Regions from separate parts of the Homo sapiens genome. Here region 1 is linked to region 2. The links come from fine-mapping of genetic effects on gene expression. A gene starts in region 2. The other region holds a variant in brackets. All regions are shown on one strand. Distances are from middle to middle. Region 1 overlaps IQSEC1 (IQ motif and Sec7 domain ArfGEF 1). Region 2 holds the start of IQSEC1 (IQ motif and Sec7 domain ArfGEF 1).

The links. PIP is the estimated chance that this variant, and not a neighbour inherited with it, causes the effect.
Region 1: its variant is fine-mapped to the expression of IQSEC1 in whole blood (INTERVAL, PIP above 0.99).

The regions. Positions count from the first base shown.
Region 1 is chr3:13,012,867-13,021,592 of GRCh38, reverse strand. All of the region lies in intron 1 of IQSEC1 (IQ motif and Sec7 domain ArfGEF 1), which reads left to right. Among named protein-coding and RNA genes, the nearest start is that of IQSEC1, 56 kb to the left of the region's middle. RefSeq lists enhancers at 1,943-2,740, 2,741-3,538, 3,539-4,338, 4,800-4,909, 5,530-5,629 and 6 more. The variant C/T (reference allele first, on the strand shown) is at 3,880.
Region 2 is chr3:13,063,729-13,079,959 of GRCh38, reverse strand. It overlaps IQSEC1 (IQ motif and Sec7 domain ArfGEF 1), which reads left to right and starts at 6,531. Exons shown (of 14, transcript NM_001134382.3): 1 at 6,531-6,968. The coding sequence starts at 6,946. RefSeq lists silencers at 6,156-6,335, 6,456-6,615 and enhancers at 9,959-10,128, 10,139-10,218.

The sequences.
Region 1 (8,726 bases), 55 kb after region 2:
GACACCAGGCTGCCCAGGTTTAATGCTGGCTTTGGCATTGTTAGTGGTGTGAAGCGGCTTCACCTCTAGCCAAAGTTTCCCATCTGCAGATCCTTTTAGGATTGTTTTGAGGATTCAGTGAGGTAATACACACTAAGATCAGGGCCCGGTGCGGTGCCAGCATTCAGTCAGTGTTGGATACGATGACCCTTGCCGTTGAGCTTTCTCCCCAGCTGGACAGCTGTGGGGGGTGGTGGGGGTATCTGGAATGGCGCCTGCATGGTGAGAATGAAAGGGTGGAGCAGAGCTCCTTGGCCCCCTGGGGAGGGGACACCATCTGTGATCGCTGCGGCCTCTGCAGCTGCCAGAAGGAGGGAGACCAGGGCGCAGGAAGCCAGGTCCCTTGTGATCTCAGGCAAGGCTGGGGTCTCCCCATCTGTAAAGGGGAACTACACGGGGCCCGAATTTGTATATGGAAGGGCTTAGGGGCAGCCACCTATTTGGAAGATGTGTTTGTACTTGGATGCCGCCTAAGGGCATATTATTTTATTTAAAGGGGTGGATTTGCAACAGGTAAGGGATTGAAAGATTGTCCCTCTTTCTTTCTGCCCTCACTCTCTGGTGTATAAACTTTATAAGCATTCCTTCCTTCCTTCCTTTTTGCCTTCCTTCTATTTCTCCTTCTTTCCTTGTTTCTTTCCTTTCTTCCTTCCTTCCCAAAATACTTGTGACAGCTTACAGAAAATACCTGCAACAAAATAGTTAATAAAAAACATCAGAAGCCAGGCATGGTGGTGCATGTCTCTAGTCCCAGCTACTCGGAAGGCTGAGGCAGGAGGAATGCTTGAGCCCAGTTCAAGGGTAGTGTGTGATGATCATGCCTGTGAATAGCCACTGCACTCCAGCCTGAGCAACACAGTAAGACCTCATCTCTAAAAAAAAGAATCAGGAGTGGAAAAAGCACAATTTAGAATAGGATGTCATGAGCTAGGGTAGAAAAATAGAACAGAACAGAGATATACAGGGTCCTGAGGTTCTTCTGTTGGGGTAAAAATTGCCAAGTTTCCTGGCAGCCAAAGGGAAAGGGGAAACCCAGCCACACAGTTTACTCTCACTGTAATAAGAAACCATAATTACAGTGGCCATAGTTGTCTCTGCTGCTGGGTGAGAGTGCCTGGGGCCCTGGGCCTCAGCCTCAATGGCGGGTCTTGGGCCTGGGCAGGTTTGAGGGAGCAGGGCAGACAGTGAGGGCTAAAGTGTTCTCTTGGGATGAGGATGCCGGCTGGCTGTGGGAAAGGAGAGAGGCAGAGCTCAGCCCTGGAGTGAGTCAGCGGCTGCCTGCCCCTGCCCCTGCCCCTGCCCCAGACCCCGGGATAGACCTCCTGGGTGGGTGACTTGGGAGCTGGGCCAGGCAGCGGGTGAGTCCTGGACTTTGGTGAGCTCTCCGTGTGCTTTTCCTTGTGACCACAGCTGGATTTTCCTGAGTCCCCTTCTGTCCCAAGGTTTCCAGGTATTGGCACTTTGGAAACCTCAGGGCTTGTTGACAGAATGCAGAGGGCTCGGCACTGGGAGGCCCGCTGTGCCCTGTCCAAGGGTGATTCGCTCGCTCCCTCTTGGCTGCCGTTTGCCCACATGGTCTGTAGGAGAAGCAGCACCGCCTCACAGAGCCTGGCAGACTGGCCTCTCTGTGCCTCAGTCTCCTCATTGAATGGCACGGCCACCTGACGGGGCTGTGGGGCGGGGCCTTACGGGAGGCTTTGTGGCTGTCAAGTGGTGATAGACAGGTAGCTTCACAGGGGTGTCACGAGCACTGGCGGGTGGCCTCCTCACCACCAATGAGAGGAGAGTGGTGGGGTGGGTGTGGGCACCATAATTGGCACTGGGTTTGTCCCAAACCCACTCTTAGCACCCATAACTGCCAGGCGCCCCTGTGGTTAACTGGGGAGGATGGGCCTTGGGCTCCAAGAGAAGCACTCTGCCCTCCCGACCCCTACCCCATTCTGTTGAGAGCCCCTGAAAGGACTAAGGCCACGCCCCAACCAGCCAGCCAGCCAGGAGCAGGCCCTCTGCGGATCCCAGCCCCCTCGGCTGCCAGGGAAGCCCTGAGTCAGCAGGTCTGTGGCCCAAGGCGGAGCTGCCGGCGGCCACAGGGACAGATTGGAGGGTTGCGATCGGACAGCGCATAGTTTTCCACTTGCGTCTTCAGATTCCCCTCCGAGTGAGCCTGTTGCCCCTGGCTGGGTCCCATTCACATCTGGAAAAGCGAGAGGTGTGTGTGGAGCAGCTGTGCGCCTGCCAGCCCTGGCCCTCTGCCCAGGGGTTTGGCGACCGCAGTCAAGGAGCCGGGAGAAGGGTCTCTGGAACTTTGGCCCGAGGACTCTGAGAGGGACGATCCTGGCTGCAGGCTGTATCCTGGACAGAACAGCTTGGGAGCTGGGCACCCCAGGGTTTAGAGCCCACAACGGTAGGTTGTGAGATGTGCAGCCCTCGGGCAAGTTGCTAAACCTCTCTGGGCTTGTTTCCTCGCCTGTAGAGTTGGGGGGGAGCCATGCCAGCTGGGCGGGCTTCTTGGCAGGTCATCACTGGGTTCTGTTGGCTTGGCATCCAGCAGGGTGCATGGCTGTGGCACCCCCTCCTTGTCCTCTGAGTCTCAGCGTGGGGGCTTAGGGGGATAACGTGATGAAGTGGGAAGCACACAGGCTCAGAAATCAGGCTGACCTGAGTTCAAAACTGGGCTCAGCCCCTTCCTACCGTGGACGTGACTCTTAGAGACGTTCTGAAGCTTCCATGAGACAATGCCTGTAAGCTTCCCCCAGCTGCAGTAGGTGCTGCTGAGGCATTGGCTGTTTGTATAACAGGCAGCCTCCCTGAGCCCCTGTTTCCCCGCCTGTGAGATGCGTGTGGGGATACAGTAGTTCTGGAGGGTGGATGAGACCCTTTAACCAGCTCCCCGCCCCTCCCCTCCCTGCGTCTTCCCTGGCTGGCCTTTCTCTGGGCACTCACCTCTGGGCCCCTGGCAGACAAAGGCCTTGCTCTGGGTACAGGGCAGTGCCCTGATAAATCCACAGCCCCTCTCAGGTCAGGCAGGAAGATCACTTTTGCATCTGGCATTATATTGAAAAAGAAAGATCGTTTTGTGCCTTGAGAGCCAATGGGGCGTTTGAGCCTCTTCGTGGGCCAGGGCAGCTCACTTGGAACACATGGGGCCCAGGGTGCTGGTTGATAAGGAGTGGGGTGGCCTTGGCTGCCCTGGCCCTGCCCCCCTCTGCCTTCCCACCGTGGCTGCATCTGGGCAGGAGGGCCGTGAACAGCTCAGCTGGCAGCCAGCCTTTGAGAGCTTCCAGGGAGCTTCCTGGACAATTAGCCATCTGATGCCCCTCTGCAGGAGGGCCAGTGGGCGTTCCTCTTGGGACAGAGTGCTCACCACCTCCCAGCCTGGGCCATGCCTAGGCAGCTCTGACGCGAGGACATTTGTTCCCACTTGGAACTGGCACCATCCTTCCTGCGGTGCTCGCTGCCACCCACCCACACACTGAAGTGGCCTGGCCCTGTCCTCTGAGCCTCACAACCCATCTGCTCCCCAGCTCTGGACAGCCTGCAGAGACCAGGACTCCCTGAGGCTGAGGAAGGGGTCACCAGCCTCCTCCCCACCCACGCCTTCTGGACACACCCTGGCTCGTGCTGTCTATCTCCGGGAAGAGCCCAGAGCTGAGTTTGGGATGGGCAGGAGGTCCTGGGCAGAGCAGAGCAGAGCCGCCACTTCTCTGGCTCTGGGCACTGCCTGGAGCACACATAAATTCCCTTATGGCTGCTTTCCCCTTTCACCCGTGGGCCTCACCATTGCCTCAGCCCTGCCAGCCTCACCTCCCTCTCCTCGGTTCCCATCTCTGCTAGTGACTG[C/T]CGCCCCCTCTCCCTGCATCGAGTCTTCGTTCAGGGGATGAAGACCTACTCTGTGCCTGACACTGTGCCAGGTGCTAACTATCCATTCCCACATCCAGCCAGCTAGCGCCCACCCTGTGAGGAGCACTGTCCCACAGCACAGAGGAGGACCTGAGTCCAAGGCTTTGCGTTACTGGTTTCCTCACCGGAGTTGTGGGTGAGGCTCTTCTTGGCAAGCACCACAGGGCAGCACTTGTCGCCGAGAGCTCAGAGCCCAGCAGCAAGGCGGCATGGGCATGAGCCACTCTGACACATGGGAAGAGGCTTTCTTCCGCTGATCAGCAAGTAGTTTGCTGAGCACCTATTGTTTGCTGCCCCGGGCTAGACCCTGGGGATACAGCAGTGAGTGAGGTGGACACTCAGGCCTCCTGGAGCAGATAGATGTTCAGGTGAGAGAGAAATGATAAAGAGAAAATAAACAAATGAAGATGCCTTCAGGCAAAGATCGGTGCCAAGAAAATAAAACAGGGAGGGATGACAGAGTGATCGGGGAGAGGGAGCCACATGGCCTGGGGAGGTCAAGAAGGGCCTCTCCCAGTGGCCGTCAGTGGATGAATAGATAAACACAATGTGGTCTGTCCATAGTGTGGAATATTATTCAGCCACAAAAAGAAATGAAGTTCTGGCACGTGTTACAGCACAGGTGAACCTTGAGGACATCATGCTAAGTGAAAGAAGCCAGACGGAAGACCACAGAGCGTATGGTCCCGTTTCTAGGAAATGTCCAGAACAGGCAAATCTATAGAGACGGGAGGTAGGTTTGCCGTGATCCAGGGCTGGGGAGGGGTTCTTTTTGAGTGATGAAAATATGCTAAACATAGATAGTGGTGACAGTTGCACCCCTCTGGGAATATACTATTAATAAAATCATTGAACTATACATTTTAAATGGGTGAGTTGTATGGTGTGTGAATTATATCTTAATAAGACTGTTTGAAAAGAAAACAAAGACTCGTCTGCAGTGGTGGCCTTGCGTTGAGAGTGACAGGGTGGAGTGAGTTTGTGAGGACCTTGGGGAAGAGCAGGCAGAGAGAGCAGCTGGTGTAAGGACCCTGAGGTCTGTGTGCACCTGCAGGAGGAGCACAGAGGAGGAGGCTGGCAGGAGTCGAGAGGGCGGGAGGAGCAGTCCCCGTGGTGGCAGGGCCAGATCCTGGAGAGGGCTTGAAAGTTGACTGGGGCGGGAGAGCCACGGCTGGGTAACATTGCTGTGCTTTCTGTTTTAAAACCGTCACCCGGGCTGCTGTGAGGAAATGAGACTGTGGAGAGGGAGTGGTGGGGCGTTGGGGGCAGGGAAGGCCGGTTGAGATGTGGCGGCCGGCCACTGTTTAGATGAGAGATGACAATTGAGACCCAAAGAAGGAGACAGACAGACTGGCTGGCGGTTGCAGTGGGAATTCAGACAGGGACAGAGCACTCCTGGCGGAGAGGAGGCTTCCTGGAGGAGGGGCCTGGGCCCGGACACTGGCAATGTCAGGATGGGCTGGTGGCGGCTCTCCAGATGGCACCCCTGTGGGGGATGTGGGGGGCCCTGCCTGGCCATGGGGAGACGAGACTGGCCACCCTACCCTGGCACCACCCCTGGGTCCCCTTTGGGCCCAAGCTGCTAAGTAAGTAGGGCACCCTCTCTCCAGGGACCCCTGTCACACTACTTTATGCTGCTGGCTCCAGCTGGCCCTCCGTGACAGTGCAGTGCCCATGTGGCCAGAGACCCAGAAGGGGCCCGGCACTCTGAACAAAGCAGTCTGCCTGGAACTTAAGTGGCCCTGAAACACGATCAGGCACCAGAGACTGTCCAGGGAGGTGGGTGTATTATTTATTGACTGGGGCCTGCCCAGTGAAGCCATTTGGGTTTGCCAGACCTGGAAGGAGCCCCCTCAGCAGTGCCTGGGGGCCTTTTGGAGGGCAGGTGGGCGGGGGCCCCAGGGTGCCTGGCACCCTCTCCCCTGGGTGTGGTTTCCTGGATGCCGACTGAGCAGGGAGGAAGTCAGACGTCAGGACCTGCTGTGGGGATGGACCCACAGCTCATCCCCCGGGGCCGCAGAGGCAGGCCAGGCACTGGGGTTCCAGGGACACCTCCGCCCCCTCCACTTTGAGACTGTGAGTACCACCCACCTGGCCCGGGGAGGGGACCTCAGCAGCCCTGAGAAACCTGTGAGGGGCTGGCGACTGTCAGGGCAGCCTGCCGTGGTGAGGGTCTTGGGGGCTGTCGTCAGAGTTTTCACTGTTTCTCAGAGCTGTATTCTGTGACCCGTTTCTCACTGCCTGGAATGCACACAGGCTCGCCCTGGGCCCAGGAACACCAGGTGTTTCCCCACAGCCGCAAGGGGAAGTTCTTTAGCTCCCCTGCGCGTTAGACCAGCCCCAGGCCCCATTAGGGTTGAGAACCAGGGCCCCGCAGCCCACCTGGATGGCAGGGAGTGTTGGGTCGCTGCCTACGGCCCTCACAACCACCCTGAGAAAGATGGACTCTTGACAATGCCCAGTTTACAGCCGAGTAAACTGAGGCCCTCAGAAGTCACACAGAAGTCAGAAGTCCTCAGAGGCCCTCAGAAGTCACACAGTGGCCCAGGGCTCCTGGAGCATATTTGGTGTGTTTCCTTCCCACACTGCTGCCCCCCTCAACCCTATGGTGCATAAACTTTGAGCAAATGGAGGTTTATGGCTGAGGGAACACAAGGCTTCCCCAGGCTGTGTTGAGGAGACACTGCCTTGCAGAAGTCTTCCCTGCCCCAGGCTCGCTGGGGCCATTTCCCATCTGGCAGTAGCCCAGTATGTGTCCCCCCAGGAGCCCCTTGACCCACTGACAAGTTCAGTATCTTTCTGAAATGATCCAGAGTGGAACCTTGAGGATCTGTAGATCCCTGGGGCTGGGAGCGTGTTGGGGGATGTTCCCTGGGTTCTGAGCTGTAACCCCTGAGCCTGACCTCTTGGGGTCCTTGGGCCAACAGCCCCTGGCTCACTGGGGTCATCAGGGAGTTCAACAGATGGGTCAGAGGAAGCTTTTACCGACCCAGCCTCAGGGAGCAGCCTGGGAGCTCTCACTCCCAGCCAAGCCTCCCCCACCCCAGCCCTGGCTCTTGGGGGCAGGCAAGACAGATAGCCCTTTCCTTAGGACTGGAGCCCAACCAGTGGCAGATGGAAAAAGTGAGGCCCAGTGATAAGGAAGCAATGGGCACCTTCACCCCTGCCCCCACGCTGCAGACAGAAGGCTGCTCAGTGCCCTGAGGGGTCAGTCACTCTGTCTCAAATCCCAGCTCCCCAGTGTGCCCCAGCCATGTGACATGGGACAGATGTCCCAACATCTCTGGGCCTGGGTTTCCATATAACCCATAGCGAAAGTCCTCCCTTCCGGGGTTGTTGTGAGGCTTAGATGGTGAAGCAGGCCTCTGTGGGGAATCTCCCTGTGGGCGTAGGTGACTCTGGGTTCCCATCTCACTGAGAGATTTACCAGGGCACAGTGCCCCTCAGGCTGGTTAGGGGAGGCTTGATGACCCCAGTGAGCCAGGGGCTGTTGGCCCAAGGACCCCAAGAGGTCAGGTTCAGGGGTTACAGCTCAGAGCCCAGGGCTCTGGCCTCCAGCTCAGCTACCTCCAGCAGCAACCTGCCTTTGTTGGGCGCCAGGGCTCAAGCTGGGGAGCCTGGCCAGGTGGCTGCCCACACCTGTGTTCAAGGCCCATTTCGGTCCAGCCCAGCAGAGGCACAGAGCAGATCAGAGCCCCTGCTGCCTGCCTGGGGACTTCAGGGGAGCCCATCCTGAGGCCTCATGTCCTCACCTGTGAAATGGCCAGGTGTAACCAGGAGCCTTTAAGCACTCCATGACTCTGTGCAGAGTTTCATGCACATCATTCATTTGTTAATTCAGTCATTCAACAAACATTTATTGGGCACCTACTGTGTGCCAAGTACTGTCTTGTCTCTGAGAGTACAAAGGTGATAAATCAGATAAACCATCCCTTCCCTTCTTGGTGTTGGGGAGTCAAGCAATATATGACTAACGCAATGCATGCATGATAGGTCATGGGGATGACATGTTCTGTGAAGGAGAGTAGGGCAGAGGAAGGAGATGGGCGCAAGGAGGGGTAAGCGGTTGGTTGTATTTTATTTTAATGGACACATGTCACCTATTAGAAAACACCTGTAGGCCATCAGGCAGCTGAGGGCAGGTTGGAGGGTCCACACTGTGGCCTTCATTCCCTGAGTCCCTTGTGGGCTAGGCCAGTGTGAGCTGTCCTCTGACCTGCATGCAAGGGTGAGCTCATTAGCCCCATCTGATGGACTTGCAAACCAATGCCCAAAAATCCCAACCAGTGTAACTCCAGTGGCTTCTGGGAAAGAGGTGAGGGGACTCCGCCGGCAGAGTGGGTATCTGGACTGTACTCAGCGTGTGGGAGCATTGAAGTGGCTATCAGCCGGGCCTGGGGTGTGGTCAGGCTGTGGTTAAGAGCCCAGACCTTGGGAGGCCAAGGCGGGCGGATCACTTGAGGTCAGGAGATCGAGACCAGCCTGACCAATATGGTGAAACCCCATCTCTACTAAAAATACAAAAATTAGCCGGGCGTGGTGGCGCATGCCGGTAATCCCAGCTACTTGGGAGGCTGAGGCAGGAGAATCGCTTGAACCTGGGAGGCAGAGGTTGCAGTGAGCCTAGGTCGTGCCACTGCACTCCAGCCTTGGACACAGAGCAAGACTGTCTCAAAAAAAAAAAAAAAAGCCCAGACTTTCATGGGAGTTTCTGTTCCACTGCTTTCGTAGCTATGTGACCTTGGGTGTGTTGGGTCCCATCTCTGAGCTTCACTTGGTCAGTGAGG
Region 2 (16,231 bases):
TGTCCTCCAGGAAACTTCTGTTTTTCCTTGCTATATCTCTTTTTCTCAAAAACCTTGCCCCTCCTTCCCTCATCTTACATAGTATTATTTGATCTACATTTCCATCGAAACAGTCAGTTCTACCATATTATAACTGTGATCATGTTCGCTCAGTATTGTGACTATTACAAGGTACTTGCATTAGAACGTTTGGTTCTGTGTGACAGTGAGCCCGCTTCAAACTGGCTCATGTAAAATGGACATATGGGCGGCATAACCTCCAGGTTTCAGGTGTGGCTGGCCCAGGGCTCCGGTGATGAGAACCTGCAGCCTCTCATGCAGGCTCCTCCCCATGGGGGCCCCAGTAAAGAAGGGGCCTCTATCTCTCAGGGGTAAGCTCAGGTCCAAGGTGGGATGTTCTCTGTCTCCACGACACTGGCAAACCTCTGGGCCTGCCTCTCACAGCCCTGCTTGAGTCATGCCCTGGTCCTGGCTCCCCCAGAGTCCCAGAGATTAAAGAAGCGGCAACCAGAAGGAGGCAAGTGGCTGGGCAGGAAATTTGCTGGGTGTCCACCACCGCCCAAGGCATGCTGCTCCCTTCCTCCAGGCAGGAAATGGGGCCTTGGCTCACCTTGTTTCCCATGCCTGGCCTGGGTCTGACCCAAAGCAAGCATTGGTCAGCACTTACGGATGCAGGACTGGGCAGATGGAGCGTGAGGTTTAGGAAGGCTCAGGGCCACAGGGATGGGGCCAGGCAGCCAGTGGCCTATGCTTGCCGGTCCCTCCGCCCTACACACAGCCCAACTCCACGTGCACATCTGTGCTGACTCAGCCTCCACAGGCCCGGCCCTGCTCTGCACCTATCCTGTCTGGCACCCCAACATCAGTGCAGGAGTTGCCAGGTTGGGACACCCAGGGCCTTGTGAGGGCCTCAGGAGAGCAGTGCTTCTCTCTAAATCGTACTTCTTTGAATGTTTATTGGTGGAGGAAAGTGACTAGCACGTGGAATGCACAATTTACAATACTGATAGAAAAGATCTGCTTTAGTGAAAATTATTTTAAATTGAGATAAACATATTAGGCCAATATGAACACAGGAAGGGTGAGAAGTAGGGGCAGAAGGGCGGTTGGCACAAGGTACGCCAGGCTTGGAAGAACCCCCTGGGGCAGCTGGGAGAGGGAGGCACCAGCCCTGCCCAGCCCAGACCTCCGGCTCCAGCGCCCCATGAATGTCCCTCCTGTGAACTCTCCAGCTGCCCTGGCTCTAAAACAACTGCAACAGCAAAGCAAACACCAGCAGAGCACGCAGCTGGATGGGCCCTGGTCTGACTGCTCCACTTGTGTGCACTCACGCAGCTCTCACCTGCAGGTGGACATAGATGCCCTGTTAATCCCGGCATCTAGATGAAGGGCTGCAGTGGGGTCCCCTTCCAAAATCCCATAGCTGGTGGCAGAGGAGGCTCCTGGCCTTCCCCCCCAGGCTACACTGCCTGCTGAGAGGTGCAGGGTTTGAGGGGAGAAAGGAGGGGTATGGCAGCCGTTGGGTGCGGGAGGGAGCCCACATCCTGGGGCTCTGTCTCTGCACGCAGGGGCCCAGCATCTCTGATTTAGTGTCTGTGGCTGCTCCATCCTGTCCTGCCATTGGCCACCACTTTTTAATGATGCCTTCTCTCGCTCACATTACACCGCCCTGCATCCTTCAGGGGCCTCTCACAGGCTCCTGAGTAGAGGCTTAGAAGCACAGGGGCTGCTCTAGGTGCCCTCTGCTCATGTGTTCACTGGTTCTCTCCCCAGGGGAGCAGGACTCTTGAGTCCTGCAGCAGCCGAAGCATCTCAAGCAGCATCTGTCTCCCACGCCCCCTTCCTCCAGCCAGCGTGGCCCCGTGCAGCGTGAGCTCCTGCAGGGAGTGTCTGCAGGGCCACAGCTCCCTCACTCATCCGCGGCCCCAGCAGGCTCCATTGGCCACGGCCGTCCTTGGCACAGTCAGCAGCAAACCTGGCAAGGCGGCAAGTGGGGACCGATGCCAGCCCTCGTGGCTTTCAGATCTCCATCAGCCAGGACTCCAAAATAGCATCGAGAAGCAGTGGATGTGCTCCATTTCAGGAGCATATCAAGGACTGCTGCTCAACTGTTATAGGGCCAGGGTCTGATCTTCTCCCCCAAGACAGGGGACAGGGCACCTCAGTGATACTTGGTTTGCTGCAGAGGGAGGTGTTTGCCAGGCTTCCAGAAGCCCACACACATTTCCAGAGATAATTGCTTCCGGCTGCTTCCTCCCTCCGTCAGCCACCTGCACGTGAGGGGTGGGGCTGGGCAGAGATGTTAGGAGGGCCCTGCACGAGCCTGCCAGCGAGGTCCTCCCAGCACCAGAGCCCGAGCCCATGTCTATGATTAGAAAAGCCTGTGATTTGGGAACTCAGCATGGAAGAGTCTGTGGTTTAGAGATTCCATGATTCAGTCTTCCAGACATAATGCCGAGTGGGGAAAGAGTTGCAGAAAAAGATATGCAATGTGATCCTACTTATGTAAAGTTTAAAAACGTGCACAAGTGTTTATATGGTTTGTGGATACCTCTCTATGCAGGAGATTCACTACAGAGTGAATTCACCATGGGGATGGGAGGAGGGCAGGGCTGGCGAGGGGATTTAACAGAGGTGGTGACCCTGGGCTTCCATCATATTCGTCATGTTCTGTTTCTTGTAGTGGGTCAGGGGTATATCAGAGTTCACGGTATTCATCTTTATGCCTTTTGGCACATTTTAAATCTTTTATTAAAAAATTCTTAATATTCTGGGTTTGGTGGTGCATGCCTATAGTCCCAGGCTAAGGCAGGAAGATCGCTGAGCCCAGGAGTTTGAGGCTGTAGTGTGCTATGGTTGCTCCCGTGAAAGCCACTGCACTCCAGCCTGGGCAGCATAGTGAGACCTTGTCTTTAAAAAAAAAAAAAAAGAAAGAAAGAAATTTGTAAAATGATGCCATTTTTTTTAGGGTCTATGTAATACTTCCTATTTTCTATAGGCATATATATGTAGATAAATGCATAGAAAAAGTTCTGGAAGGATCCACTCCAAACAGATGACAGCGGTCACCTCTGCAGAGATTGGAACGGGGAATAAGATTTAGGAGGGTGGGAGGTAAAGGGGGCTTTATTTTGTTTAAAGAGAATACATTTTCTTATCATTTGTGCAGTTAGGATTTCATTTCTTTAAAATGTGAAGCTTCAGCTAAAAGAAAATAAAGTCCCCAGACTTGAAGACTGTGTGGTCCTGAGATTTAGAGTCAGAGTGTTGACGGCTTTGCAGTTCCACAGTTGGAACGGAGCAGCGGGGGTGGGGGGTTCACTTCTGCCCAGCCCTGGATGAAGATCCTGAATCCCTGGGATTCGGGGCTCCCTGCCTTGAAGAGCTCTGTGACTGTCAGATCTGTGGACTGCATGCTCCAACCTTCTCCGTCCTCCCTCTTCCCAAATGCTGTCATGTTCCTCCCACCTTGGGGACAGATGGCCGCAGGTTGCAGGAGTGAGCCGATCTGCAGGAATGTTCCTGCCAGCCTGCAGGGTGGAAATTTTCCCGTTGAGGGAAGGGAGATGGATGTGAGATGTTTCTGGACTTACCCCTTGGCAGCTGCTCTCACCTTCTGATCCAAGCGGCTTCCCACAGTCCACAATGATGAGGCAAGGGCAGGGGTGAACTTGGGCACTTACAGAAACTCCAGGGGATGAAAACGCTGTCTGAATGCTAGGTTCCCACTGTGCCTTAGTCTCCAGCCTGCAGAGGTGGGTGAGTGGGTGGATGATTCTGTGATATAACCAGGGTCACAGGGCAGCAACCCCAAGGCTGGCTGCCCCTGCTTCCCACTCCAGACATCTGGTTACAACTGCGAAAGTGAGGAAAGTGGACAATTCCATCCAGAGTTCTGTAGCTCCACTTCTTATGTGATCAGGACCCTCTCACGACCACAGGCTTTGCATCTGGGAGGTGTGGCTGACAAATCTGCCCTGAGATTGGATGTCGAGGGCTTGGGGTCATGAGGTAGGTGAAGCTCAGCCTGCACAGGTGGGCGCGCCCCTTTTCTGAGACTCTCTGACCTCTCACTGCCTGAAGGGATGAACTTGTGGGTTCCGTAGTCAGAGATCAGAGTCGGAATCCCAGCTCCACGCTTTTTGGAGCCTCCTCTGTGCCTGGTCCGGCGCTGGATATTGAATGTCAGAAATCAAAACCGCGCCAGTGCAGGTGGGTTGTAGGCACTACCCACGTGCCCTGTAAATGATGTTTTGTAAAAGCCTAAAATCTTGGCATTTGTATCTGAATGCCAGGGTCCTTGCCATTTCCTCTGCTTTGAAATAACAGCATAACATGGAAGGAAAAGGAGAGTACGTTTATAAGAAGAAGTGCTGAAGAAGCAACGGATGTGCAGATGCATGTCATGGGCCTCCCAGGGAGCAAAAGAGGAAGCCCAGGAAAGGGACACTGGGTGCTCCACACTCAAGGCATCCAATTCACCACTCTGAGCCTGTTTCCGCCTCTGGAAGATGGAAGTGAGAAGAGAATCGCTAGTTGAGCAAGGCGGCTGAGAGGGGCATTGCTCTAGCCCGAGCCAGGCTGTGAGTTAGTCTGGGCTCTGCTGCTGCCTTGATGGGAGACCCCCGTATGTGGTGCAACCCATCTAAGCAGGAGTGGTAATTATGTTCACTTCGTAGGGCGCTTCTGAGAATTCACTGAGACCATGAAACAACTGGACCTGACACAAAGTGAGCCCTCCTGATGCAGTGGCTGAATTTTGATGTTATTAAAATCTTTTGAAACTCCAGTGAGGAGAGGGGTGGGGTGGGCTCTGCAACATGTTAACCCACAGAAATATGAATTCCTCACATGACTCAGGGAGGGAGGTCCGTGCTACAGGAAGATTGGTCATGCATATGGATTCACCTGGAGAGGGCAGATCGGGAAGCGTCATGCAGTTCTGTTCGATGCCTCACCTTGGCCACCTGAGGCCGCAGCTCCAACCTCTGCTCCCTACCAGGACACTGAGCTGGAAGACTGGGGTCCTAGTCCCACCTCTGCCACTCTTTGCTGTGCAACTTTAGGCAAATCGCTCACCCCCTGAGGTTCATTTCCTCCCCTGTAAAGGATGGAATGGAACTCAAGGATGCAGCATCACTCCTTCTAAATTCGGTGAGTGTGAATCTGGAGAGAATGGAAAGAGGAAGGGAAATGGCCCTGTGGGCTGCCATCCACATCCAGCCGATTCCCAGTCTCAACTACTCCCTCTCTCATTTATTCCTCCCAGTGAGGCAGCTTTCAAGCAGTCAAGAACCAAGACTCTGGAGCCAGACTGCCCGCCAGCTATGTGGCTTGGGCCAGTTGCTGAACCTCTGGCTTTAATGCGCTCCCCCGTGAAGTAGGATGATAGTATTAGGCCTCATTGGGGTTGTCTTGAGGATTACCGTGCACGGAAGAATATTATCTACATGCCTCTGAGATAGGTCTGGGATTCCTGGTTTACAGATGAGGAAGCAGAGAGGATCAGATGAACATCAGACAGGAAGAGAGAAATCTGTGTGGGAAAGGCGGGTGTGGGAGCCGAGGATGGATGTGCGCTTCTCCCCTCCACCTCCCTGTCGCACACTGCACCACGCTGGCCTCCTCTGGGCCAGTCAAATACACCAGGCTGCCTTCCGCCTCAGAGCCTTGACGCCAGCTCCTCCCCTGCTTCTTGCGTCATCCGAGTCTCAGCCACACGTGCCTCACAGAGGGCCTTCCCGACCACCCCGTCTGATGGCAGAAGCCTCCTTCCCGCCTCTCTTGGGGTCCCTGCCTCCCCTCTTCCTGCTCTCTTTTCATCCTGATCCTTATCACCACGTGCAATCCTATATCTGCACACTTACTTCCTGGCTTCCCCTTAGACTGTAAACATCATGAGGGCAGATACTTGCCCGGCACATGGAAGGTCCTCGGGAGAGGAAGAGGCACCATAGCTAGACCAGAAATTCTCCCTAGCCACGTGCAGCCCCCTTTGGGACAGGACTGGCACAAACGAGGACTGCTCTGCCATCCACCGTGCAGCTACTGGCGTGGTGCGCCCTCCTGGAACCCCGTGGTATAGCTGTTATGATCCCTTTCACAGTAGCATAATCAAGACTCCCAGGAGAGACGCGGCTTGCCAAGGTCTCATCGCCCTTCAGTGGCAGAGACAGCCTTGGAGTCGGCCGGCCTCACTCCAGGGCCAGAGCCCCGAGAGCTCCGCGGCTCGCGTGTCTCAGTGCCGAAGGCAGAAAAGCCGCCTTGGAAAGTAGTGTCATCGTAGGCTCCGCGCGGCGCGTGCATTTTAGCAACAGACTTCCAGGTTTCCAGCGCGGGCCAGGAAGGGGCCGGCGCCCCGCGCCCCGCCGGGTGTGTGACTTTGCCGCGAGGGCGCAGCCGAGCGGCCGCGCCTGATGCTGCTGTTGCCATGGCGACCAGCGCCTCGGCGATTGGTCCGGCGCGGCCGCACTACGTTGCTCCTTGGGCGCGGGGGGTGGGGGAGGCTCCGGCGCGCCCGCCCCTTCTCCGGATGCTGCGAGAGCAAACCCGGGGCAGCCTTCTCTCGACCCTCCCCTCCTCATCCCCGCGCCCCGCACCCCGGATGGACGGGAGGGAAAAACCCCAAGGTGGGCCCAGGTAGCAGCGAGGTGGACGCCCCCGCCCAGCCTGGCGACCACGGTTACTCGACGTCCTCGCTCGCTCCTGGGCACGGTGTGAGCGCGCGCTACGTGCCAGGGCCCTCCACAGCCCGCTGCTGGCGCCGCCCCCCGCTCCCGCCCCAGCCTCCCTGGAGGAGCCCGCCACCCCCGGGAATGTGACTCGCCCCGCGATTTAATTTTATTCCCCTCCACTTCTTGCCTGAGCCGCCTGCTCCTCTTGGAAACACGTTGAGCCTCCCCGCTGGAGAGGGAGCCAGAACAGGGAAGAACGGATTCACACAGGATGGCTTGCAGAAGACGCTATTTGTGAGTATATGTGGCAGGTTTCTGCCTGAAGCCAGAGGCCAGAGGGGCCCGGCTGAGCTGGGAGCTGGAGTGAGGGGCATCGTTGGGGGAGGGGCAGGTGGATGTGCAGGTGACTTGCAGAGGGAGCTGGCCACCCAGCAGGGATGCCGGCGCTCGGCCCCTGCAGCGGAGGTGTTTGTTGGTGATGACGATGAGAAAAAGGCTATTAGTCAGCAGGTCTTCAGCAGGCTGTGAAATTCCCAACTGTGAGAGCAGGTATCCCCCCTCCCAGATCCACATTCAGGGTGCCCAGACCGGCTCCTACTGTTTTGGCTTTGGTTTAGCCCATAGCCTGTTTAGGAAGAGAATCTCTGCCCAGCACGCCCATGGCCAGCCCTTCAGCCATGCCTGATAGAAGGTCGCAGGCAGGCTGAGGCAGTGGCCAGGATGCTGCGTCCTCCAAGGGCAGGTGAAGGTCCAGCCCACCGTCCCTAGCACGGAGGCATCAGTGTCCAGCTGTGTGCCCAGGTGTTCTGTGGGCTGGCAGCAGAGCGGCTGTGTGCTGGGCCTCACGCCAGCAGCAGAGGCTGTGAAAGTCTGCACGGGGCGGTGACATCACGGGCCCGGGTATTTATGGAAACCAAAGCCTGCGCTTCGGTTAGCCAGGCTTCCCAGGGGGCAGTGGGGTTCGAATGCCAGCTTCCCTCACAGCTCTCTGGGCGCTGCACTGTGCTGTTCTAGGAGGAGCAACCTTTGCCCTCCTCTGGGACCCTCGGCTGCGGGGGTTGAGGCCCAGCGTCAGGTCTCCACCTGCCTAAACTATTTGCCCAGGACCCACTCATTTGGGGCTGTGCAGTGACCTCAGACCTTAGGAGGTTAGAGAGCATGGCTGAGTCCTCTTGAGCTGGGCTCAGTCGCAAGGCTAGGAAAAGGAGGCCTGGAGCAGTATGTGGGGAGCCTTCTGGGGGCTACCCCAAGGCCTCCCTAATCGATGGAGGCCCCTTACCATGGCAGGGGCCTGTGGAACCCCTGATAGAGTGGCAGCTCCCCGTCACCTCCACTGAGGGAAAGTAAACACACCTCTGCCTCTGCTGCGTCAGCAGTGCCAGGCGGCAACCCACGGGGGATGGCGGTGGCCTCTGGTTCGGGGGATGGCGGTGGCCTCTGGTTTGGGGGATGGCAGTGGCCTCTGGTTTGGGGGATGGCAGTGGCCTCTGGTTCAGGGAATGGCAGTGGCCTCTGGTTCGGGGGATGGCGGCCTCTGGTTTGGGGGATGGCGGTGGCCTCTGGTTCGAGGGATGACGGTGGCCTCTGGTTCGCTGTGATGCTCACTTGCTTTTTTAGTGGAGAAGCTCACAGGTTGGTTTGTCGATGCGAGCAGAGCACACCAAAGTTCTCACTCCCTGTGGCAAGGCCCTCGCTGCATTTTCTGAAACAAATAGTAAATCCTTTCCCAGCGTGGAACTTCCACCCCAGTGGCTGGGAATAGGTCCTCCTGAGACAGCTGTCTCCTCCCTGCCACACCTTTGCCTGGGCCCAGGAGCCTGATGCCAGAGAAATTCTAAACTCTCAGGGCTGTTACATCGGGGAGGGGAGATGTCATGAGGATGAAATGTGACAATTCATATTCAGATTACTTGGCCCAGTGCCTGCTTGCCTCCAATGCTCAGAAATGTCATCCTCACAAAGGCCTTGTCTGGGCAGGCACTAAGAACCCCATTTTAGAGATGGGGAAACTGAGGCTCAGCACAGTTCTACTGGAACCCTGGAGTATACTAGCCTGGGGTGGGGGTTGTAGCCCAGGAGCTATACTGGAATCACTTGAGGAGCAGTTAAAGAAACAAACAAAAAAAAAAAAACAAAAAAAAACTGTGTGGGTCCCACCCCCAGACATTCTGGTTTCTAGGTTTGGGGGAGGGCTCAAGCCTCAGGATCTTTTTCATTTTCCGGATGATTTTAATGTCCAGGTGTGGTTGATGTTCCCGTGATGCAGCTATTCACTGTGGCTGCGTTGCCCAAGCCTATCCAATTGCAGTTTTGCAGGGACAATGTTCTATATGGATTCCAATACTCTTCCCTGGAGAGTCTGCTTCAATCTGTTGGGGGCCCAGCCACCTGCATTTGAACACGTGGCTCTGGTGGATTTGCTGATTCCTGGAATAAGCTCGTCTAGCCTTCCTGCCTAAGAGAGGGGCTGGCCCGAGGGGGCTTAGCGCTCACTGTCTTTCTTTTCTGTGGGTCTTTTCACTCTTCTCCAGCTCTCAGGCTCCCAGTCTGAGCATTGTGACTCCCAGGCCATCCCCGCTCTGCCACCAAACCTATTGGCACCAGAAATACCAAAGATACTTGGAGGGGGTGGCTCTGTTTGTACGCAAGGATCTTGTAACCAAGAGCAGGCCTTTCCTGAGGTTACCCTGCTGCACTTGATAAGCCTGTGTTTGCCCACCATTACTCCCCACCCAGAACCCGCGGCAGGCCCACTTCTAGGCCCAGGCTCTCCCAGCACCTGCTGCTCAGACCTTATTGTTACCCTGCCTTTCAGTGTGGAAAGGAGATGGGGTGTTGAGCATCTCTAGATGTTTAACTTTCCCAACAGTTGCACTGTAGCCACTATCAGAGCTGCCCAACTTGATTGCAAAGCGTTCTCATGCTTAGTTGCCTCATGGGGTCTCACCAACTGCTGTAAAATGTGATACTGTCGATCCCGTTTTACAGAAGAGGAAACTGAGGCTCAGAGAGGGGAAGGAACTTGACTGGGGTCACACAGCTGTTTCCTGCCGTACATTTGGCAGTGGTGTCCCTTCCCCAGCATGCCACATGTCAAATCGGGACAGACTTGCTCCAGCGGCCCTGTGCATGGCACAGCCAGGCTATCCTCAGCCTAGTGGAGCCCTGCCGGCGGGCCCCCACCCCCACCCCACTGTCCTCACTCCCTAGCCTCCATTTTCGCCACTTCCACTCTCTGGGCCCCTGGTGTGCACCCAAGGGAGCTTTATGGAATCGAGACTCTGTCCCGGTCAGGGCTCAGTCCATCGTGAAGGTGGCACACTGGATGGGATAAAGGATGACAACAAAAGCAGGAGAAGATTTCTTAACCCAATGGGGGAACATCAGGAGGCTTCCAAGAATCAGACCCTGAATCAAACTTGCTAACACCTGAGGTCATTGCTGTACTGGCAGCTTCATGAATGGTGTCTGAATGAAGGATGGCCCTCAATTCTGTAACTACAGCATCCTTTTCATCATCTCTGCAAGGGGCCCCTCTGTCCTCATGGGCATGTCACATCCTGTCACTTGAACACAGGAAGTGAGGCTGTGAGGAGTTTGTGGTGTGTGAGATGTGGGCTGCTTGGCCAGGCCAGTGGAGCACTCGCCTACCCATGCCTGTTCAATCATTCATTCACTGCCTGGAACTGTCCCGACCCCTCTCTTCCTTCTGTTTGGGGGACATGATGACCTGCCGGCCCCCGCAGGAGGCAGTGGTCTCCCTCTGGTGGGATGCCCTGACCTGCTGCTTGCAGTGGGGCCTTCATGAAGGAAGCGAAGCCCTGGTGGGTCTCCCCTAGACAGAAGAAGGGACACTGGTGGGACTGGGCCTGGAACATTCCACACACACACACACCTCCAAGAAACTTGTGCATTGAGCCTTCACCATTATCACCTTGGCTGGGTCAGTTCTGCAGGCACAGTTATCAGCATCTGCTGGACAGTGGGCCTGGGCTGGATGCCAGGGAAGAGCAGCCCCAGCCCACCGAGAGAGATGCAGGGAGGGAACCGGAGGCCCAGTCTTCACTCAAGCACGTGTGATGACCGGTAGCCTTTCTTGCCATGCAGTGATCACTATTAAAAATGGTTATTATGAATGACCCACACAGCACTGGGCTATTTTCCAAGAATGCTGTAGCATCTATCCACCCTTTACAGCCCCAGGAAGCCACTGGGCAGGTCCTGGTTATAACTCAGAAAGACTGGGATATGCAGCCAAGGCCGCATAACCAGGCCTGGGCCTTCACTTCCCTGCCTTCAGCTAGTGTTCATGGTGCACCTGCTGTATGTCCAGCTCAGTGCTGGGAACCACTGAGAGGGTGCTGCTCTCAGGGGATACTGCAGGGGAGAAGGACACAGAGAAATGAAGAAGATAGAGAGCCCAATGGGAATGGATTGAGTGAACTGTGTGGCCACTCAGGAAGTGAGGAGGGCTTCCTGGAGGAGGTGACCTTTGAACAGAAATCTAAATGATTAGGAGGAACTATCCAGGAGAAGAGTGGGGGCCCCGGGTGCAGGGGACAGCAAGTGCAGAGGCCCTGGTGAGGGCATGCTTGACAGGATTGGGCCACAGAGGGAGGATGGTGTTGCTGGAGCAGAGTGGACCAAGAAGAGAGGTAAAGGGGCTGGGGCTGTTCATGGAGGCCCTGGAGTAAAGAGTCACATCGTCATGCTGGAAGCTAAAGATATGAAGAAAAGACTGGGGGTTAAAGAGGTTGGGGAACTGCATTGGGGCCTCCCAACCATGAGGGGGTGTCATGAGCCTGGGGCCTGAAAATTCAGAGGCCTGGCCACTGCCTCTGCCCCTTTGCAAGGCCAGGGCCCAGGCCTGCTCCCCGTTGTATACCCAAAGCTGGCATGGCCTGGCATGATGTTGGGACTTAGAGACCCTGTCTGGGGTGAATTTTAGAGACTGAGAGGAACAGACTTTTCTGGTAGTTGCTGGACAGGCAGGGCAACAAGTAGCGTCTGCTTAGGCAAGCACCTACCTCTGACCCACCTGCCACCATCTTCCACCAAAGGATCCGTGAAGGACAGGTCCGACATCCACATCCTCCCTGGGCCTCAGAGGAAGCGTAAGGCCTGGATTGGCCCCAGCCCCGGGGCAGGACCCTGCTGGGCCTTGGTCAGCCCATGGTCAGCATCTTTTCCCAAGTGCCCCAAGCACAGGCACTGGGCCTAAGCCTCCTGCTCTATGTGGTGGGGCTGATACTCCCCTTCCAGGGTTTGCCTGCGGGCCAGCAAGCAGGCTGGGCCCCAAGCTCAACAAGTGTCACGCCATCCTTGTCCCTCCCTGGAGGCCCTTTGTTGAAGCCCCCCAAGGCCCCCTGTGCCCCTAAAGGACCTGGCACCATCTCCTCAGGGCCCTGGCCTGCCTCCTTGCACTGACTCACTTGGTCTTTAAGAATAACAACAAAAGTGCCTTATCTTGTTGAATCCCACAACTCTGGCAGGGTGGTTGTGTGCCATCCTGTTTTCCAGGGAAGTGCCTTGCTCAGGGTCACAGCCAGTGAGTCTGCCTGACTCCAGACCCTGCTCCTCCCCAGCCAGATCTGTGTGCCCTTGTGGGTGGGGCCAGTGGGCACCCAGTGCACAGAGATGGGATGAGGAAGGGAAGGAGGGTGGTCAGGGGGCCCAGGTGTTGGGGGACCTGACGCCTTACCCTGAGCAGGTTCCAGATCTCTTGGCCGCAAGGCTCTGTCCCTCCCCACCCCTTCCCCACTGCATGCACTACCTGGAATGTGTTGGTCACTGCCACTGTGGCATGGCTGCCCCCAGCCTGCTTGTCCTGGGTGCTGAGGGTACTTGTCCCACAGTGGCTGGGAGCCCCCCACCCAATGCCTGTGGACCAGACCAGTTTTGTCACCACCAGTGGGGGCTTAGGAGGCGTTGCTCCTGGGTGCTGGCTAAGCTGCTCCCAGGCTTACCTTAGAGCCTGCTGCTTTCCCCCAAAAGCCTACTGACGACACAGCCCCCGTCTGCCCTTCCCGCTCTTTCCAGCCTGTTGGATGGCTCCTGTTCTCTCAAATCTCACTCTTACCCCCAGGAGGCTCCCTGCAGGCAGAGTGGATGAAAATATCCTGCCCCTTGGTCTCTGAGGCCCTGGCCCACCTGGGGCCTTACAGAGCAGGACAAGGAGGCTCCACTCCAGCTCTGTCCCTGCCTCACTATGTGACCCTGGGCAGGCTGCTTGCCCTCTCTGGGCCTCTGACCTCATCTGGAAAGTTCCTGGTTATGCTGCGACACACAGGGGACTGGGAGTGGGAGGAGTGGTGTCTGCCAGGCACAGCAGCTCCAGGCATGCTGGCTCATTCACATGGCCCCATCCTGCCGATCACTCACCCATTCATTCACTCAGCCCACCATGGTCACTGGACATCTAGTCCACGTCCTGACACACGCCAGGCCTGTGGGCTACGCCTGTAAATGGACCAGGCCCGCCCTGCCTGCATGGAGCTACCGCCCAGAGAAGGGACACAGTAAATAAGACCTGGTGGCACCTGCCAGAGCGGCTCCTGGATACAGCTGGGAAGAGAACGGGGTGGGGCAGTGGGCGCCCCTTCCTGCACACACCCCTCTCTCCTCAGCCGCTCTGGGGCCTGAGGCCCTCTCTCCTGGTCCTCCTGGCCTCCCACGATCCCACAACGTTCCAACTCCTGCCCAGCCCTGCCTGGAAGGCTCACCCTGCCACACTCTTGCCCATGCTGGCTCCTCTGCCGGGAGTGCCCTTCTTCCCCTTCACCTCAGACCTCACAGCCCAGCCTGTGCCTCTTTCCTGACTCCCCCAGGCAAATGGGCCCCCTCATAGAGCTCCCGCATGGCGCGTGGCGAGTCCTCGCTGTGACAGACACAGTGCCGGCCCCTCTGTTGTCACCAGCTGCCCGGAAGTCCTGCCTTTGCTTTCTAGCATCCCTGAGGGGCCTGGCCTGACAAGGTACAAATCACCATTTTTAAAATTGTGGTAAGATAGACAGAAAACTTCCTTTTTTAAAGCTGAACACTGTTGCGTTGTGCAGATCGACCACATGTTTGCCTTTTTTAATTACACACATTTCAGCGGCAGTAAGTGCATTCACAGTGCCGTGCAGCCAACACAGCATCCATCTCCAGAACTTCACTTTCCCAAACAGGGCTCTGTGCTCTGTAAGCGCAGACTCCCATCTTGCATCCCCAGCCCCTGGCACCCACCATTCTGCTCTCTGTCCCTGTGAATATGACTGCCCTGGGGATGTCATGTGAGTGGAATCAGACAGCATTTGTCCTTTCCTGACTGGCTTACTTCACTTAGCCTCATGTCCTCAAGGTTCATCCCTGCTGCGGCAATGGGCAGAACTTCCTTTTTAAAGCTGAACACTGTTCCATTGTGCGGATGGACCACATTTTGTTTGTCCATTCACCCATTGATGGACACTGGGTTGTTTCTGCCTTTTGGCTGTTGTGAATAGTGCTGCTGTGAACATGGGTGTGCAAATACCTCTCCGAGTCCCTGGTTCCATTTCTGTTGGGTGTATACTCAGAAGTGGGATTGCTGGGTCAGATTGTGATTGGATGCTGACTGTTTTGAAGAGCCGCCATACTGTTTTCCACAGCAGCTGCACTGCTTTACCTTCCCTCCACCACTGCACAAAGGTCCTGGTTTCTCCACATCTTCGCCATCACTCATTACTTTCTGTTTTTCTTTAATAATAGCCATCCTAATGGTGTGAAGTGGTATCTTGTGTTTTTAAATTTCCCCCTCTTGAATAAAAGTGTGAGTGATGAAGTTTAGCTTACAAAAGGGATGGTTACGTCTTTGTTGTTTTTCAAATATAGTCATATAACTGAGAGATTATTCATCCACATGGTACAAAAAAAGGCTGCACATATTGTCTATTTGGTTCCCTTGCTTCTTGTTCTTCTGCCCAGAGGCCACGGCTGTGTCCAGTTCCTTTGGGTCCTTGGTGAATTTCTGTGCATTTATATGTGTGCTTCATCATTGAAGTGCTCCCTCAGCAAGCTGGTGACACAGAGCAGTTTAGTTTTCCCACCACTGTTTTGTGGTTTCTGGATTTGAGCCAATGAAACGCTCAACTTGGGGGATGTGTGACCAGCCGGCCCCTGCAGGAGGTGGTGGTCTCCTTCCATGGGAAGCCCTGGCCAGCTGCTTGCAGTGGGGCCTCCATGAAGGAAGCCAAGCCCTGTGTGTCTTCCCCAGGCAGGAGAAGGGAGGCTGGTGGGACTGGGCCTGAACATTCCAAGATGAACACCCCCACACATCTCCAGGAAGCCTATGCGTCAAGCCTTCATCATTGTCACCTTAGCTGGCTCTCCGTCCAGGTCAGTCCTGGGCACAGTTATCAGCATCTCTTTGACAGTGGGCCCCAGATTCAGGCAGAGCTGCCAGAGGGCATGTGGGAGCAGGGCCAGCCTAGGTTGTGCAGGACAGGCCCCCACACCAAGAATCCACACAGATATTTATGGGCATGAAAATCTGCGAGCAACTATCCGAGTCTGGTCCTCACTCCTCTTGACATCTAAACCACAAAATGCATTTTGTATGATTTGAATATGCATTGAGTTTTCCAGGAATGCAACTGCTCTCGCAGTCGAGGGAAGATCAGACTCTGATATGTTCGGAGCTCAGCCAAGAGCTGCCACCATTCAGAGCACCACATCACCAAGGACAGCATCTCTCATGGTGCCAGAGTGCCCAGTGAACTCCAGCATCCATCTGGGTTTGTGGTCGCTGTCACACGACCAGGCAGGTGACTATAGGGTAGGCCCACCCACGATTAACATGACAAATTACCGTTTATTTTATTCTAAATTATTTTCCTCTTTTTTTTTCTCTGTAATTTTACCATTCAGCCATTCTCTTGGTTCTGTTTTAAATATGTGTGTGGATGGATCACATGAGTCATCAGCTTCATTTGAGAAGAGAGAAGAGGATAGTGCAAAGCTCTGGATTTAAGGAGCGGGGTGCTGGACAAGGGATCTTTGTGGTAATGGAGCTATTGTGTATTTTGACTGTGGTGGCACTTGTATGTGCCTGTATGTGTGTGCATGCGTGTGTTTAGTTCTATGCAGGCGTATCATGTATGCAGGCTCCACGGTACAAGCAAAATCGGAAAGCTACCTAAGATGGGAGGACAGTGCAGTGTCAGAATCCTGGTAGTGATGGATCCTATAGTTTTGTAAGATGTTACCATTGGGGGAAACGATGTATATAAGATCTCTCTGTATTGTTTTTTGTTTTTTTTTTTTTTACAACTGCAAATGAATCTACGATTATCTCAAAATAAAAAGTTTAATTTTTAAAAGGTGAGGGTGGGTATCAGGTCTGACAGGCTGAGATCCCTGGTAATTGAGGACAGCAGACAGCCAGTGACCTCCCAGTCTCAGTTCCTTGGTGGTGCACCATGGTCACCAACCTCTACTGCCCTCCACTCCCTGACACCTGAGACACCTTGGGCCCTTCTCTCCAAGGCTGCATCCCACCAGGGGCACTGGGGCCGGCCCCTCACCCCAGAAAGGAAACA